Homo sapiens: one gene and its partners. The protein of the gene in region 2 interacts with the protein of the main gene of each other region in a pairwise test. Each region holds a gene or a part of one and is shown on either strand. Other genes may lie near its edges.

What was found. The genes of interacting proteins can lie anywhere in the genome.
Region 1: the proteins of FBF1 (region 2) and KRT13 interact in a two-hybrid assay, tested with the Homo sapiens proteins (one large-scale study listed by BioGRID).
Region 3: the proteins of FBF1 (region 2) and TMCC2 interact in a two-hybrid assay, tested with the Homo sapiens proteins (one large-scale study listed by BioGRID).
Region 4: the proteins of FBF1 (region 2) and SSX2IP interact in binary tests that used the Homo sapiens proteins (3 or more experiments, as listed by UniProt).

The regions. Positions count from the first base shown.
Region 1 is NC_000017.11:41,502,791-41,507,610, forward strand, and holds the start of KRT13 (keratin, type I cytoskeletal 13), read right to left. Parts: upstream 2,823-4,820; 5' UTR 2,761-2,822; coding exon 2,266-2,760; intron 936-2,265; coding exon 853-935; intron 654-852; coding exon 497-653; intron 309-496; coding exon 147-308; intron 23-146; coding exon 1-22.
Region 2 is NC_000017.11:75,926,955-75,931,989, forward strand, and holds part of FBF1 (fas-binding factor 1), read right to left. Parts: intron 4,336-5,035; coding exon 4,275-4,335; intron 3,094-4,274; coding exon 3,043-3,093; intron 1,240-3,042; coding exon 1,122-1,239; intron 579-1,121; coding exon 501-578; intron 1-500. UniProt on the Homo sapiens protein: Keratin-binding protein required for epithelial cell polarization. Involved in apical junction complex (AJC) assembly via its interaction with PARD3. Required for ciliogenesis.
Region 3 is NC_000001.11:205,230,096-205,234,467, reverse strand, and holds part of TMCC2 (transmembrane and coiled-coil domains protein 2), read right to left. Parts: exon of another isoform or gene 4,299-4,372; intron 692-4,298; exon of another isoform or gene 325-691; intron 1-324.
Region 4 is NC_000001.11:84,645,440-84,649,811, forward strand, and holds part of SSX2IP (afadin- and alpha-actinin-binding protein), read right to left. Parts: intron 2,169-4,372; coding exon 1,994-2,168; 3' UTR 1-1,993. UniProt on the Homo sapiens protein: Belongs to an adhesion system, which plays a role in the organization of homotypic, interneuronal and heterotypic cell-cell adherens junctions (AJs).

The sequences.
Region 1 (4,820 bases), about 34 Mb from region 2:
CCTCCTTGTTCAGCTCTGCACTCTGAAATGCAAGCAGGAAGAAGGTGGTGGGGAAGCTCAGCTCGAGCAGCCTGACCAAGAGGCTGTGTCCGCCCGGCCCCCCTGGCTATATGGGATGGGCTATGTGGGGTGGGAGGGCCGGGTACCTTGGTGTGGAACCATTCCTCAGCATCCCGGCGGTTCCTCTCTGCCATGGCCTCGTACTGCTCCCTCATCTCTGCCAGCACGCGGGTCAGGTCAATGCCTGGGGTGGCATCCATCTCCACGTTGACCTGGCCGACCACCTGGTTGCTAAATTCCTTCATCTCCTGTGGGGATGGGAAAGGAAGATGTGTGAGGCTACTCATCCTCCCTCTCCTTGGCTCTGAGTGCTGGCAGAGTGTTCTGGAGAGTGTTTCCAGGTCCCACAGTGGAGGACTGTGTCCAGTTGCAGGGGAGGGCTCCTCCTTCTCACTGGAGGTTGTTGAGCCCAGGGCAGCCTGCAATTCCCGCTCACCTCTTCATGGTTCTTCTTCATGTAGGCTAGCTCTTCATTCAGGCTCTCGATCTGCATCTCCAGGTCAGTCTTAGACAGAGTGAGCTCATCCAGCACCCGGCGCAGGCCGTTGATGTCGGCCTCCACGCTCTGGCGCAGGGCCAGCTCATTCTCATACCTAAAATAGTAAAAAAATGAAATGTTTTTTGAAAAAGCAAGACATAAATGATATGAGACATTCTCCCTACCCCTGCACGAGACTCCAGTACTTCCAGACCTTCACTCCTGGGATGCTCCAGTGTCATTGGTCAGATGAGCTTTTGTCTAAACTAAGAGACTCCTGGGAAAGGAGAGGGAGGGGGAAAAAAAAAACTCACTTGAGCCTGAAGTCGTCCGCAGCCAGCCTGGCATTGTCAATCTCCAGGATGACCCGGTTGTTTTCAATGGTGGCGGTCAGGATCTACAAAATGCAGAAGAAGGTAACCTCTAGGGCATGGGTGTCCAGTCTGTTGGCTTCCCTGGGCCACATTGGAAGAAGAATTGTCTTGGGCAACACATCAAATACGCTAACACTAACGATAGCTGATGGGCTAAAAAGAAATTGGCAAAAATAAAAAATAAAAAAAAACTCAATGTTTTAAGAAAGCTTACAAATTTGTGTTAGGCCTCAATCAAAGCTGTCCTGGGCCACATGCAGCCCACCGGCCACAGGTTAGACAAGCTTGCTCTGGGGGGTCCACGTGCTTGAGGAGGTGGCCTGGGAAAACATGGGCAGGACCTGGTTCCCATGGGGCTCTACCTCTAAACTGTCCTGTGAGCTGGGACAAGGCATTTCCCTCTGGGCCTCCATTGCTCTTCTGTAAAGTGAGGAGTGGGGCTGCATCCCCTCCAATCGTTTCTAACACTTTAATATTCCATGTCTGAGCACCCTGGGGGAGATGCAGGGAGTGCATTTCTGAGGAACGACCTGCTGAGAACATCTTTGGTTCGTCATGTCTTGGCAGCCTCAGACTAGCACCCTCCCTAGGCCACTGTCTTGAGATCCATCCCCTGAAAGTCAGGAGGGACTCGGCTTGGTGCCACATATCTCACAATCACTTTGCTAGAGCTGACTTCCCAGCTGAGTGGAGGGGAAATCCAACAAATATTCCCATCCCTTTGAATTTCTTGTCTAAACGTTTATATTCCAAAGCAGTGAAAGCCTGCTCCACATGGCTGAGACTCAGCCCAGGCTGGTAGATTTCTGCTCCAACAGGCTGGTATCACAGCACAACAGACAGGGCTCAACAAAGGGCACCCAGGCTCGGCACTGCCTAAGCCTCTGCCTCTCTCTCCCCCAACTTGGCCATCGCCAGTTGAGAATACCAGTTTGAATGGGTCCCCTACAAAGTAAACAATTATTCCCAGGGCAATGAATGAACACGTCTCTCTTTCTCTGTTGATTTCATGCATTCTTAATGGCTTTTAAACCTGTCATGTTTCCAGATAACTCAGTAGGTTAGGATTATAGAGATCGAGTCATGAATAACATAACTGTCTGGAAAGCAGTAAAAAAACTGACCTGAGTAATAACAATCATAAAAATGAATAATGAGAGAAAATGCATTTGGGGAGTTGTGGCATGAGAAAGCCCATCAGAGGTAGAGACTCTTGGTAGTCAAACAGTAGGCTTTTCCCCTGCAAGAAGTTTGTGAATTCCGTCCACACCTAGTCCCCCACAACACTGTGTTTCTTGGCCTTGGAGGCTCTGCCCTTCATGGAGGACCCCTCCTCAGCTTCCAAGGGCTCACCTTGTCCCGGAGCTCTTCAATGGTCTTGTAGTAGGGGCTGTAGTCCCGCTCAGGGCTAGCTGGGCTCTGCTTCAGGTGCCAGTCACGGATCTTCACCTCCAGGTCAGCGTTGGCCTCCTCCAGGGCGCGCACCTTCTCCAGGTAGGAAGCCAGGCGGTCGTTGAGGTTCTGCATGGTGATCTTCTCATTGCCAGTGAGGAGGCCGCCATCACAAGCACCAAAGTCAACAAAGCCACCAGCAAAACCCCCACCAAAGCCACCTCCAAGGCCACCTCCATAGCCACCTCCAAGGCCACCTCCATAGCCACCTCCAAAGCCACTACCAGCCCCTCCACCAAAACCACAGCTCACGCCGCCTCCATAGCCCCCAGCTGATCCCCCGGACACAAACCGAGTTGAACAGGTAGAGACACCACGGCCTCCTCCCAGCTGGCAAGAGCCACCCCCGAAACCACCTCCATAGCTGGCAGAGGAGCTCTGCAGGCGGAGGCTCATGGTGAGAGCAGGATTGAGAGCAGGTGCAGATAGAAGCTTGCTTGGCCTGGGCCGAGGACTGTGGCTCTTCCCCAGAGTGGACACCTTTTATACACCTCCATAGGGGCTGGTTATCTTCTCTCCTCCCTTCCCCACCCTCTGACTTGGTGCCAACTACACTTCTGTTTCCCACAAGCTTAGTTATCTCTGATCTCTCCAGGGTGGGTTGTGCCTTTTGGGGGTGGCTTTTTTTTTAATCCTTAACAAAAAGAATGATTCAGAGGGGACAGCATTCTGCCTGAGACTGCCCTTTTGACAAGTGAATTCTGTTTCACCTCCACTTAAGGAGTTCACTGTGCAGGCTCTGAGCCCCACCCAGTATTAGAACGGGACCTGAGATGCGGAGGCCTGCCAGGAGCTTCTGCGAGGAAAGTGGTGGGTGCAGAGTGGCTCTGTGCTTTGCAAGGTCACCGTAGCCCTCGACCTTCCTTTTTTCTATACCTAAAACTTCTGACTGGGATGTCCTGGATCCTTCTTAGCACTTCATCTACTCCAGGGGCCCCAGCAACTCTGATGACAAACTTTGCTTGGTTCGATAGAATCACCTGCCTTGAAAGTATTTAGACTGAGAAAGAAATAGCTCCGAGGCCATCAGAAAAAGTCACAGTGACAGAGACCTTAAGGGATCTTAGGGACCATCAGACACAGCTGTGGAAACTCAGGCATGGAAAGAGGAAGTGGCCCTGTCCATTATCATAGCGAATATTCTCCGAGCCCTCACCATAGGCAGGAACTGGGTGAAGTTACTTTACACTCATCATCTCATTTAACCTTCACAGCAGCCACAGGAGGAGGGTCCTACTATTGCCCCCATTTACACATGAGGAAAATGAACCTTAAGGGCAGAATCAGGACTGAAATCCAAGTCTGGTTCTGTCTGACGCTAAGGTGCATTTTTTAGGTACATTTTTCATACAGTAAAATGTATAGATCACGTGTCCAGCTTGATGTCACGCATGGGTATGCACGACCTGTGTAAACACCACCCAGGACATTCCCAGCATTCCATAAAGGTCCTTGTACCTTTTCCCAGTCAATTACCTGACTCCACACCCCTGGTGTAACCACTCTTCCAACTTCTGTCCCCATAGACAAGTTCAGAGGTCCTCAGCTAGAGGCTGCTTTGCTCTCCAGGGGACGTTTGACAATGTCTAGGAACATTTTGGTTGTCACAACTTGGGGGCACTACTGATAGCTAAACACCAGGTATGCTGCTAAACATCCTATAAGGTGCAGGACTGTCCCCACAGCAAAGAATTATCAGACCCAAAATATCAATAGTGTTGAGGTTGAGATGCCTGGGTCAGTCTGGCCCTCGGGTTGAATCACTCCATTACGCTGACTGCTTTAGGGCACAGTCACATCCAGGAAGACGGCCCTGTAATAATGTGAGCAGGGTCCTTTCTAGTACGCCAGTCATATGAGGTCTGTCCCAGCCAAGAGGCCACATAAGAGGATGTGACACAGGACCCAGGGCCAGGGTCTCAGCTTAGGATCCTGAGATGTGGCTGAGAAACTCAGGGACTATGTAAGAACCCTGCCAGAGGGAGCTTCCCCATTCAGGCTGGGAGAAAAGGACCTCAGATGGCATCTGTGAGGCCAGGATAGAAGGTCCTCCATTCCAGGGCTGACAATGGAGGACCCTGAATGCAGACTCCCAGGCCCCACTCACCAAGGGGCCAGGGTTGCTGTGGATGGCATCTTGGGAGCAGCTTTCTGGCCCACAGCAGCCACAAAGGTCTGGATGATACCAGGCCAGGGGCTGGGTGGGGTGGCACAGGCATGAGGTTCTCCTGGAACCCCCTTCACTGATTCAGCAAGATCAGAAAGGAGAAATCTGAGTCAGGGCTTTCTGGGCCTTTGTTTTCTGGGGTAGAGAAGCGGGCCTGTGCTTCCCGCAGGGGTATCAGCAGGGACAGAGCCAGGGCACGTTGCCAGTGTTCTAACAGCCTTGCGAGGCCAGGGATTCAGGCTAACCCCTGACCCTGCCCGGCCCTCCTGCCCAAGCTGATGGCTCAGCT
Region 2 (5,035 bases):
CTCGAGTCAAGGCTTCTAGCTGCTCCAGTACATAAACAAGCCCCCTGGCATCTGGAGGGTGGGGCCTGGGGCAACGGGGACTCCACAAAAAGACAGGCCGGGCAAGGAGAGAGGGAGTTGGAGGGCGGCCCTGGACCTACGGGGCCTGCCTCAGGCTTGCCGGTGGGGCCTCTGACTCTGCAGGCTGCATGGCCTTCTGGAAATGTCCCTCAAGCATCAGAAGAGAAGTAAAATATCCACACATTCATGACGGGAAAGGGGCTCCTTCCTATACTTGGGAAGATCTTCAGTTTGATGCCTGGCTTTAAGGTCTTTGCAAATAAGTTCCCTAATATCTCAGCCAATACAATATAGCTGGTCCCGACATGAATTCACGAGGAAGTAAACCAGTGGCACCCATGTGACATAGGCAGCAGCTGGGCCTCGGGCCAGCAAGCATGCCTAGGCTGCTCCACTCCCAAACCAGAGTGTCCCAGAGGCATGACAGGAGCCTATGGTACCTTCAGAGGAAAACCTCCTGTTCTGATGCCCAGAGCTGCTGGGAGACGGAAGTGACTTCTTGGTGGGAATGGCACCCCCTGCAGGAAGCAGAAGACAAGGTCATGGGCCTGAGTCTCTCCTGGCCAAAGTCCTCCTCCCATATCATGGACTGGGGCCCCTGGGATGGGGTGCACTTCTTCCTGGGAAGCTGGGGGCTCATGGCCATGGGCACAGCCAAGGGAGGAGTCTCCAGTTCTGCCATGGGCTTCTGGCAGGGAAACGAGGTAGGAGCTACCTCTGCTTCCTCATCATGAGTCACTCCAGAGACATGGGTTCAGGAGAGGCACAGGCTGCCATAGAGTTCTCCATTTTAACTCACACAGCTTCTCCAGGAGCTGCCCATGTTGGACCCAGAGGGCCTGGAACAGCTCGAGGAAGGGAGGAAACTCAAGCTGTCCCCTTACCCCACCACACACACTCAAACACACACACGCACAAATGCTCCTTGGCCTCTCCATCCTGTGCAGAGAAAACCCAAGGACATGAACGCTTCCTACTAGCATCTTCCACGTCCTCAAAGTCTCCCTAGCAGATGCGAGGAGCCGTCTCCCATGCACCTTTCTCACTGGCTACTGACCCACCTGCAGGCTTGGGGTGGTTGGGCAGCTCTCCTTTCCCAGGGTCCTTTGCAGCTTTTTTGCTAGGGGCTGAATTAGATTTCTTCAGACCTAAGATATCAGCATCCATGCCGTCCAGGTCCTAGAAAACCAGGGAGGGAGGGCAGAGGACTATGTCTGATAAGGGGCTGAGGACTTCCACCTGAGAGAGATGGGCTGTTGGCACCCCAGGTGTAGAATTGTGAGAAAACAAAGGAAAATGAGAAAACTGTTGAGAAAAACAGTGAGTGAAGAAAGAAAATGGAACTAAAGGTAAGCAGGGGGAGGTGGAATGGAGTCCAGCTCATGGTTCTGGGATGAGAGACTCAAAGTCAGCACCAAAAATTGAGTCAGAGGACTTGTGGGTTATGCCCAGGGATCCTAGGTGGCTGGTCTCGGGAAAAAAGCTTTCTTTTTTTTCTTTTTTTAGACAGGATATTGGCCGGGCGCGGTGGCTCATGCCTAGAATCCCAGCACTTTGGGCCGAGGCAGGTGGATCACCAGGTCAAGAAATCGAGACCATCCTGGCCAACATGATGAAACCCTGTCTCTACAAAAAATACAAAAATTAGTTGGGTGTGGTGGTGCACGCCTGTAATCCCAGCTACTTGGGAGGCTGAGGTAGGAGAATCGCTTGAACCTGGGAGGTGGAGGTTGCAGTGAGCCGAGATCATGCCACTGCACTCCAGCCTAGGCAACAGAGCAAGACTCCGTCTCAAAAAAATAAAAATAAATTAAAAATAAAATAAAATAAAGACAGAGTCTCACTCTGTCACCCAGGCTGGAGTGAAGTGGTGCGATCATAGCTCATTGCAGCCTCCAACTTCTGAGCTCAAGTGATCCACCTGCCATGGCCTCCCAAAGTGCTGGCATTACAGGAGTAAGCCACCATGCCAGACTTTTTTTTTTTTTTTGAAGACAGAGTCTCACTCTGTCACCACCCAGGCTGTAGTGCAGTGGTGTGATCATAGCTCATTGCAGCCTCCAACTCCTAGGCTCAAGCGAGCCTACTGCCTCGGCCTCCCAAAGTTCTGGGATTACAGGTGCCTGGCCTTTGAGGAGAAAGATTTCAAGATGAGATTAAAGAAGCTGAATCTGGACCGGGTGTGGTGCCTCATGCCTGTAATTACAGTATTTTGGGAGGCCAAGGTAAGAGAATCGCTTAAGGCCAGGAGTTTAAGGTTGCAATGAGATCACACCACTGCACTCCAGCCTGGGTGATAGAATGCGATGGTGTCTCTAAAAAAAAACCCAAAAAACAAAAATACACAACAAAAACAAGAGCCCCACAGGGCTGTAACCAAAAACGCGGCTTTGTCCTAGGGACTGTGGCAAAATGGGTTAACTAAAAGGGACACAAAACCCCAAGGGTCAGACAGGAAGGTGCTGCTGGCTGGAAGGAGAGGGAGAACAAGGTGTCTTAGGCCAAGCTAGAGATTATGTCCTTACAAATTATTCAGAATCTGTGCCTTAAAAATCCATTGCAAAGATTGGCGCTGGGCTTGATCTGATGAGAAGACAGCAGTATTGAAGGGGGCTTGGCAGGGGATGTGGAGAGAAATATGGAGAAAGATTAAGAACAAGCATTAGAGGAAAGAGTCTCCCCCTCTGTCTTCTAGGTGGAGGTGAGGGGACCCAGCTAGGTGGGCCTCCGAGTAGAGCTGGCCCCGTTTCCCCAGAGGCCTGTGGCACTCTCCACTCTCTATATACCAGGAACACTGGTTGATACTCAGAAAGGCAAGGAGGCCAACGGCTCACAGACGAGTTCCATGCTTGCACGAGGAAGGGCTCAGAAACACAGGTTGTAAAGGGAGAAATTAGAAGGAGAATGAAGCTTTGGTACAAAATATCATGACCCCACCCCACCCACCCCCAGTTCTAAGAATCGTGCAAGCTGTTTCCTTACCTTCATGGCCTGGAGCAGAGCCTGTGGGTCTGCCTCTGAGATACCTGAAACCTAAGTCCACAATGAGGGTGAGGACACAGATGAGGAGGCACATTAGTCAAGGCCCAATAAAACTCAGGGTCCTGGCCCCTTGCTTCTGTTAGGGCAGACGGCGCGGCAGGAGCAGAGCTTGGCCAATGGAGCTTACACAGGAGGGTGGCTTTGTTCCCCTTGCTTGGGCTTGGCAGTTGTTTGAAGCCAAACCTGCCTGGTTTTAGAGACTCAGAGAGCACTGCCATTCCTACTCCTTCCAACCATAGAGAACTCTTCCATCCAGGACTGAAATTCTGCTACTTCCCACCCATGCCAATGGACAGCTATGGAGTTTATAAGGGGAAAGGAGCAACATCTAAGACTCTAGCAGTTTCAGGGAGCTCTCCTTTCCACTCATCTTACTACAGGAAAGAGGATTCTGCTTTGGGTCCACTCGGCAGCCCTTGGGCATTATTTACAGTGGCTCACGCCTGTAATCCCAGCACTTTGGGAGGCCGAGGCGGGTAGATCACTTGAGGTCAGGAGTTTGAGGCCAGCCTGGCCAATGTGGTGAAACCCCGTCTCTACTAAAAATACAAAATTACCTACTAAAAATACAAAAATTATTTTCTTTGGCTGGGCACGGTGGGTCAGCCTGTAATCACAGTACTTTGAGAGGCCGATGTGGGTGGATCAAGAGGTTAGGAGTTTGAGACCAGCCTGACCAACAGGGTGAAACCCCATCTCTACTAAAAATACAAAAATCAGCCAGGCGTGGTGGTGGGTGCCTGTAATCCCAGCTACTCAAGAGGCTGAGGCAGGAGAATCGCTTGAACCAGGAGGCGGAGATTGCAGTGAGCCAAGATCGCACTACTGCATTCCAGCCTGGGCGACAGAGGGAGACTCCATCTCAAAACAAAAACAACAACAACAAAAATTAGCCAGTCATGGTGGCAGGCACCTGTAAGCCCAGCTACTTGGGAGGCTGAGGCAGGAGAATTGCTTGACCCCGGGAGGCAGAGGTTGCAGTGAGCCGAGATCACACCACTGCACTCTAGCCTGAGCAACAGAGGGAGACTCCATCTCAAAAAACAAACAAAAAGAACAAAGTGACTTTGCAGGGACTTCTAAACCCTTCCGTGGGCAGCCCCTTGGCCACAACACCCATCTCAGTGTTTCTGGGGATAAGTAGGGAGGTGGAGGGAAACAGCCAGGCTCACCTCAGCATCAGCTTCTTCCAGGCCTGCCATGGTGCTGAAGACATCATCACCCAGGAGGGACCTGCAAAGGGGAGGCGTCAGCCCCTACCTGCATCCCAGGGCACTGGATGACTCTAAAAAGGGGAGGAGTAGCTTAGAAAGCCCAAGGAATCTCGGATAGGTCTCTCCGGAGAACAGAGGTGCTAAAAGGAATGTCACAGGCCACCTGATGCAGTGATTTTCAACTTTGTTAGCAGTAGAACTGCTTCAAAAACAAATTGTTAAAAACCATAGGGCTGGGTGTGGGGGCTCATGCCTGTAATCCCAGCACTTTGGGAGGCCGAGGCAGGTGGATCACTTGAGGTCAGGAGTTTGGGACCAACCTGGCCAACATGGTGAAACCCCATCTCTACTAAAAATACAAAAATTAGCCAGGCGTGGTGGCGGGCACCTGTAATCCCAGCTACTCAGGAGGCTGAGGCAGGAGAATCACTTGAACCGGGAGGTGGAGGCTGCAATGAGCTGACATTGCGCCACTGCACTCCAGCCTGGGCGACAGAGCAAGACTCTGTCTCAAAAAATAAAGTAAAAAAAAAAAAGTAAGAAAAACAACTGCTCCAGATCACAAGAGGGAGGAGGGCTCAGAAAATTCCTCCCTATCTCTCATCTGTGGGGTATTCATTCTTATCTTAGAAGAACAAACACAATTTGAAAATCACTGATCTAGGCCAATCCTTTAATTCTGAGGATAAGAAAATGAGGGCTCAGAGAAGTTCAGAAAC
Region 3 (4,372 bases), on a different chromosome or scaffold from region 2:
GTTTGTTTTGTTTTTTATTTTTGAGACAGAGTCTCGCTCTGTCGCCCAGGCTGGAGTGCAGTGGCACGATCTCGGCTCACTGCAACCTCCGCCTCCCAGGTTCAAGCAATTCTCCTGCCTCAGCCTCCAGAGTAGCTGGGACTACAGGTGCCCGCCACCATGCCTGGCTAATTTTTCTGTATTTTTGGTAGAGATGGGGTTTCACTGTGTTAGCCAGGATGGTCTTGATCTCCTGACCTCATGATCCACCCATCTCGGCCTCCCAAAGTGCTAGGATTACAGGTGTGAGCCACCACGCCTGGCCTCCCATGTCCTTGTTTTTAGGTATACTTCAATTCTACCTCCTCTGATAAAACTTATCCCAGGCGTCCGGCTCCCACCTGAGATTGCAGGAATCTTCAAGCCTTAACATATCTACTGGGCCTCAAGATGCAGCAGGCCCTCAGAGAGCCATCGCAACCATCACAACACTCCTGGAGAGCCCCAGGGAACGTACATATCTTCATTCCACCTACGTTCTTATGAAGTAGCTTGTCTTCTCCTTCATTTAAAAAATGAAGAAACTCTCCACTCTCACTGCTTCATTTGACTACCCTTTAAAAAAAAAAGGAGAAACTGAGACCTATAAATTTTATCAAAACCCTGAGCCTTGAAAAAATATATATATAAGAAATAAACAAATAGAAAACAAGCAGGTGCTTCTCGGGAATGTCAGTTTTTTTTTTTCCTTGACTTGGGTAGATGAGGTGTCTGCTTTGCTTCTGTTATTTAAACTGCGTACATGTTTTCAGGCACTTTTATAAGCATGTTTCACAATTTAATTCAGCAGCACCTTTCCTGCTGAAGGTGGTATCTGCTGACTGCATGAACCCTTCTCTAGTGGGCTCTCTGCAGGAGTGGTGAAGGAACACACGCCACTCACAGTGGGAGGAAGCTGCCTGTGACCACCAGGAAAGGCGGAGAGCCAGCAGGGAGAACCACACAGGACTCAGTTGTGACTTTCTCTCAGATATCTGGCTTCGAATTATCTTTCCTGCTCTTCACTAAGTAGGCAGGAAGACCAGTGTATGGTGTGACTGGAACATGAACTGGAACCCAAATGAGTCTTGAGTCAAAAGTGCTTCAAACCAGGAGGGGAATGATGGAATTTGGAGCTCCCCCTTTTTCTTCAGGGAAATATATTAATACTGCTCAGAAATCTCCAGGGAAATTACTTAAAGGGGCTTTTGTGAGAGGAAAGAGAACCTTAGGGGAAGTCCAGGGGGAAAGCCCATGGCCAGCATCCCCAGACACCTCCTTTCAGGAAAGACTCAATTCTTCCCACTGTGAGAGAGGTGGGGAGGTTGGTAATTTCCTCCCGTGCCTTCAGACTTCCATCACATATCAGGATAGAACCAGCTCACTCTTATGCTTGGCCACTCATCCTGGGCCTCAGAAGTATCTACCACACGTTGTGGTTTTTTTTTTTTTTTTCGGTTGTTGTTTTTTGTGTGTGTGTTTTTTTGTGTTTTTTTTTTTTTTTTTTTTTTTTTTGAGATAGGGTCTTGCTCTGTAGCCCAGGCTGGAGTGCAATGGCATGATCATGGCTCACTGCAGCTTCAACCTCCTGGGCTCAGGCGATCCTCCCACCTCAGTCTCCCAAGTAGCTGGGACTACAGGTGTGTGCCACTGCACTTGGCTAATTTTTGTATTTTTAGTAGAGACAGGATTTTACCATGTTGGCCAGGATGGTCTCAAACTCCTGGCCTCAAGTGATCCACCAACCTCGGCCTACCAAAGTGCTGGGATTACTGGCATGAGCCACCCACCGCTCCCGGCCCGTATGCTGTATTCTTAGCAGGAATGTGTGCTCCCTGTCTGCAGTATTCCCCTAAGCCCCACCTCTCCTCCCATATGCAATGGAACTGGGTTTTCTTGCTGTAGAATTGTGGTGTACTTTTGGTCAGCCAGCACTCTCTGTGGCTTAGCAACCCCAGCATCTCCTCCCAACAAGCAGGGAATCTGTTAGCAGCAAAAGGCTGGGCAATAAGGACAAATGAATCGAAACATGAACTCGAGTGTTTCAACAGGAATCCAAGCTGCAAGTGGCTGAAGAATGGGACTGAATTGTTGTGCTCCTGTTGCAGGATGTCTACTGAGATTTTCCCCGAAGGTCCCACAGGTGTGTGGAACAGTTGAGAAGGCCCTCAATGTATCTGCATGAGCCTCCTGTGAGGCAATGTCCATTTTTAGGTTATTTTTCAATTACAGTTTTAAAATTGCTGCTTAACTACTACTTTTCACTGGCCCTTCCCACCCTATAATCACAGATCCCAGGGCACTGTAGCAGAAATTTACAGTGTACAGTAAGATGGTCCACAGTGCTGAAGGAACAGAGGGAGACCATAGGAGCCCATGAAACCACTAACTGTCACTAAACACCATTCAGATTTCTTTGGCAAAGATAAAAATTCTCTCCTCTTCCAATACCGCCCCAACCTCTACGGAGGTGCTTTACACAGAGTCCTTTATTATTATTATTATTATTTTTGCCCCTTTCTCAAGATGATTTCTTCCAATGCACTTAATTCATCACAGTGCCTGGAGCTGTCATGAGAAAACAGAAATGGAACTAAGATACCAAAAGTTCTCATCTCCAAAGTTTAAAATGAAAACAAAAGCAAACCAGAACTGCTTATCTGCCTTGACCAAACACAGGTATGAGGTAGGGGAGCATTAAAAATTAAACACCCTTCTGTGGTACCACCATCAAATCTAAAACAAGTCAACTTCTACCCAGTTCCAGAGTCAATAATGGAATTTTTCTATCATTGGAAAACTGTGCCAGCATTGGAAAACAATTTTTCCAGCACTGGAAAGCAAGTTTGGAGGGGCTGGGCACGGTGGCTCACACCTGTAATCCCAGCTTTTTGGGAGAATGAGGCAGGAGTTTCGCTTGAGTCCAGGAGTTCAAGACCAGCCTAGGCAATATAGCAAGACCCTGTCTCTACAAAAAATTTAAAAATTAACCAGGCATGGTGGCGTGTGCCTGTAGTACCAGCTACTTGGGAGGCTGAGATTGGGGAGTCACTTGAGCCTGGGAGTTTGAGACTGCAGTGAGTCGTGGTCATGCTACTGCACTCTAGCCTGAGTGACAGAGCAAGACTCTGTCTCAAAATAAATAAATAAATAAGTTTGGACACACTCCGATATTCCTAGTCCCTTTCACCAGAAAAAGGCTCGGAAAAGTTGAGTGATTTGCCCAAGACCACACAGCAAATCAAACTGTGAAAGTCCCCAAGTCACATCTGGTTGGAAGTCCCTTGCACCCGGTAGTAAACATGTTGTGATGAAGCAGACAGAGATAAACAGGAAAAGCCCTGCTTGTTTCCCCATGCTCCCACAAGCAGGCTGCAGCTGGGTTTTCTGCTCCTTACTGGGTCCACATTGCTGGGTTCAATGGTATGTTTTCTCTGGGGGCGGGGGGGGGGATGGGGGGATGGGGTGGATGGGGGCGCGGGGTAAGGGGAAGCCTCCTTTTCTTACACCTGATTTCAATTCTGGTTGAGGGCAGTTCGGCAGTTAATATCAAGTGTAAAGTTGTTACTACATCTGCCCCTGACCAGAATGAGGGCACTGCCAAAAAAAAAGAAAGAAAGAAAGAAAAAAAAGATAATACAGGAGAGTGGAAACGTGGCATCCCTTAAGGCGTCCCTCTACAGAGACACTGCAGCCCCCATGCCATGACCAACCCATCTTCCTCATGAAGGCAACTGGGGGAATAAATGGAGAAAGCAGTTTCCACTGCTGTCCTGAGTTGGAGAGTGGGGAATTTCCAAAGCTGCCTCTCACAGACTCAGCTGAGGGTCTCATTGGTCAAAGATTCAGGGTTTGCTGGCCAGACTCATCTGGACCGGCTCAGAATGAGGCTGAAGTCTGCAGCAGAAGGCTAGCCTCCTCCCCACAACAGCATTCAAGAGACCCCTTCCCCCTCACCATCTCACTTAAAACAGGAACTACACCTCCTGACCACATGGGATGGACTCGGGGGTGACAGCAGAGATAAACACCAAGGACTCCCTGGGCCTGGCAAAAGCTCAAGCTTCTTGTGCAGAGAGAGCCTATCCCACAGAGATCCTCTAGACATAAGTCTAGCCACGAAGCTCTGAAAAGGACGGCGGCAGAACCAGAGTTCAGATTTGAATAATTACTGCAAAGTTTAAAAAACACACACAACAATAACCTAGTCGTCCCCCTTTTCACTCCTCCCCAAGGCACACAGACAGGTAACATACACAGGTAAGAGCACACACACTCACCTGCGCTCTGACTTCCTGACTCTGAGCTGCTCAGGCCAAATGAGGAATGGCATTGGCTTATTCTGGTGAGCTCC
Region 4 (4,372 bases), on a different chromosome or scaffold from region 2:
ACGTCTCAAGGAATCTTTCTTTCCAATTTGAGAACTCAACTCACTTTAAAATGGAAACACGCAACAAAAAACAGATGCTGCTTTCTAGAACTCCATTGTCATGAAATATAATATTTGCTAAAATAAGAGATTTACTTTAAAAATTAGAGTGCTTATTTCTTGCAAAGTACACCATGGAAAACCCTCGGGGGAAAATTGTTGCCAAATGTATCCATTAACTGTATTTAAAATTTCTGATTGCCTTTTTGACCATGTTATTGCTAAATAGCAAAACAAACAAAAACAAAAACAACAAAAATCCTATATCCCAGCTAGATTTCTTCCTTTAGCATATGGTAGTGTCTTCGATATTTTGTACAATGTGTAGTATTTTAAATAGTAAAGAAGTGACCATGCATCAAGCTGAAGGTAGTGACTAATGCTCAAGAGCTAGCTCTTTAAAACTATAAATATGGTTACTATGAGTATATCCACTAATGTCTCATAAGACACTCTTAATGATATCCTATCAGCCCTGAAAAAATGGCTGCTGCTATGCAACTCCAAAGAGTTACATAGTTACGTATAGTGAATGGACAACACAAATAGGTGGGTTTTTTTTGTTTTTTAATAATATGAATTTAAAATAGCCACAAACAGGGTGAGTGCATGTAAGCGGCTGAACTGCCAGTACAGGGGAAGGTAAATGGGCCTAAACTATGATACCTAGCAAGGGTTGGATCTGTGCAGGCTTCTATGTACAGAGACAAGCAGGGTTAGGCACTTAAAGCTTTTTGATGAAAATCCTGGGAAAGAGCTGAGCCTACATTTATTATTATTACTATCAAAACAACAACATACTTTTCATGAAGAAACATGCAATCAGAAACATTACAGAGACTGAAGAGAGCTTAAGAGTTTTCTGAAAATGAAATGACATGTTTTTCCAGAGTATCATCTCAATTATAAAATTTGATGGTTTTATATTATCATATTTCTTCAGTGGTAAATACCTCATTAAAAAATTATTAAAAAATTATTGACAATACAAAGCCCTAGTTAGTATACAGATATTACTATACTGGTACCCATCTTGTAAGGAAAATATCACCATCTAGATATCTTAAATATCTTCTATCATCCAATATCTTAAACCAATTTCTTAAATTGTTTTATTCAAAGGTACTTTTGTCGTCTTGCCCCTATTCTTCTATCATCAATAGTCCTTTTAAAAATTATAATATTCTACATATACAAAATAAAAATCTAATGTCATAAAAATCTCAAAAATGTAATGTTAGTAGTGTTGATTATCTAAAGAACTCAGCTTCATGGAATACCTTTCAATATTTATTGCCCAGATGTATTAAAGAGAATTCTTAAATGTAATGCATCAATGGTCCTAATACATCTGTAAACAGAATACCACTAAAAAAATTTTACTGGCATGAAATACTATACTTATGGTTGTGTGAAACTTTTAAATCTTAAAGCCTCTTAACATAATCATGTGTATCTATGTACAAAACATACATAAATTTCACTTTATTTAAAACATATGAAAGAGGTAATTTCAAACCACACTAAACATAATAAATATAGAACTCGCTTTGTTAAAAATCTACAGTATACATTCAAGTAAAGGCTAAACTTCCAATGCCAACTATATTTGAGACAAAATTAAACATTTACAATAATCAGTTTCCTAAAAGTGCTATTTTTAATACCTATAAGAGGAAACTCAGTCTAGTGCTTTTGTTTCCATCCAAACATCTATACATTCCTTTATTCACAGAACCAGATGCTTCTGTTACTAAAAATACATATCCAAAGCTTTTATATCCTTTTAAATAGATTTAAGATTTCAACTCTTTGGGGGAAGACAGGGAAGTCCAAACAAACAACTCAGACCATCTTAAGTTATTAGAGATAACTGACTTTATGACACACCCTGTTTCAACTTAGATGTGAAACTTGATGAACACATTAATGAAAAAAATTCCAGTCCACATGTCTAAGGTAAGTCATCTTTTTCTACATGAGAATTTGTGTAGCTCAAGGAGCATCCACTATAGCAACCTTCCTGTGATCCAGGTCTTGATGCCACACTCCATTTTTGATTTGTACATTCTCCTCCAACCTGATTTGGTTTAATTTCTTCAGCAGTTATATTCAGTACATTGATTGAACTGTTGGGAAAAGAAAGGCAGATCTTAGTGACTATCCTCTCCTTCTTTTGTACTTTAACCTCATAATGTGGCACTCTTCAAAAAAAATAAGTTCCTTTTAATTCTAAAAATCTAGGCCAAAAATATAATTTAAAATTTTACTTGGAAAAAAAAAACGGCTGGGAGCAGTAGCTCACACTTGTAATCCTAGCACTTTGGGAGGCTGAGGCAGCCGAACTGCTTGAGCCCAGGAATTCAGGACTAGCCTGAGTAACATGGTGAAACCCTGTCTCTACAAAAAATTAGCTGGGAGTAGTAGTGCATGCCTAGTTTAATCATTTGTACAAGGGATTCTGATGACCAAATTACTATAAATTTATTTACCAATACTTATAGTAATTCGGTCATCAGAATCCCTGTACAAATGATCAAACTAAGTTTTTTAGGTAACTTACGCACAAGTCTCCTTGCCTGGAATCTAAGGCACAGCCTTTATATAAAATTCCATTCTACAGTGAAGGAACAATGAGGATGTTGTAGAAATTAGCTACAAATACTCCTAATTATTTTGTTGCAATATTAATATAAACCGAGATCCAAAATGCTTCAGGAGCAAGAGAACCAAGTTTATCAAATAATTTAAAATGTGAAGAACCAAGTCAGGCTGCACAGCTTCTCTATTAGTTATAAAACTTTTTTCTGTTTGTTTTATTCTTAGAGGCTAGTTAACAATGAATACCTTGAATTTCTTTAAGCTCCAAAATTGTTTCTATGCCACGGATGTTGTTTAGTGGAGCACTCAGAAACAAAAAAAGCATGTTTATATTTGTTTACATATATTTTTATTTTTATAGTCTGTCACTAAATGTTTTTAAGTGCTTTACATACATTAACATTTAACTTGCAACACCCTATGATTTAGGTACTAAATGCTGAACTTTATTAAACATAAAACAATGTCTTCAAGAAATGTTTATGTCAAATATTTCACAACTAAAAATGATGTAAAAAGCTAAATATTTAAAATATATAAAAACAATTGAGACAACTATGTTATGCTATCTCTTAGATATAAAATGCATTATTTGTGAATGGTGGCTAGAATTTGTGTCTATATCTATACAGATAGTTCTGACTGGTCAAATTTAGAAGTTTGAATAACATTCTATGTAAGAAAATACTATAAGCTTACACATTATCTTTTGATTGTAAAATAAATAAACTTTCACTTCCCATATTCAACTCATCTACTGGTCTAACTTCAAAATAGATCCCAAATCCAAGCATTTCTTCCTTCATATTATGACCCTAGTCCAATTACCATTGTCTTTCGTTTCCACTCCAATAGTGCCTCCTAACTGGATTTCCTGGTTTATATTACAGACTCCTACAATCTGTTTTCAATATTATAAAACAGTAATCTTTTTAAAACTTAAGACTTTTTTTCACTCTCTTGCTTAAAACTAGTGTTTTTTCTATTCCCCTTAGAACAATATTTGACCTGCAAATGCACACTAAAATATTCTGTAAATGAAATCCCAGATGTGTTGGGGCTGGGGTGGAGAGAGCAAGCAGAGTGGGATTATATATGAACAATATTGATCAGAGTTAATAATTGCTGAACCTGAGTCATAGGTACACGTGGGTTCACGATCTTATCCTCTCTGTATATTTGAACTTTTACATCTCTCCATCCTCATCTCACACCTCTAGGTCTTGGTCACCATTGCAAATGTATGAGGTGTGTCCCACCCTCAGGGTTCCTACACTTGGCTAGAGTGCTCTTACCTAGCTCTTTTTCATCCCCTCTAACATTTACTTGGAGTCCTAATCCCCCCACCTCTTAAAAGTCAACTACAACTTATAGTGTGTTCTCCTCCTTCTTTTAAAAGCTTCCTTTCTTGTTTTAAACTCCATCTATTTCATAATTCTTGGCCCAAGGGCCAGCTGGCTTCTTCGACACTTAGTTCCACTCCAGTCTCTAACACAGGCCGAGTTTGCTTCAGCTCTGACTGTTTTCCAAGGCCATTATCTCCTACTTTTAATTAAGAGCAAAGAGATTACCACCATACTTTCCAACTTACCCCTCTGATCTTTTCTATTCCTCTCTGTCTTACTAGGAATGTTCTACCTGCTTCCTCTTCTTCGTTTAAAACTAATCTTGGAATTGGCACTGAAGCAGAGTATTGATCTTATCTTAGAAAATGATATAATAACTTGAGATA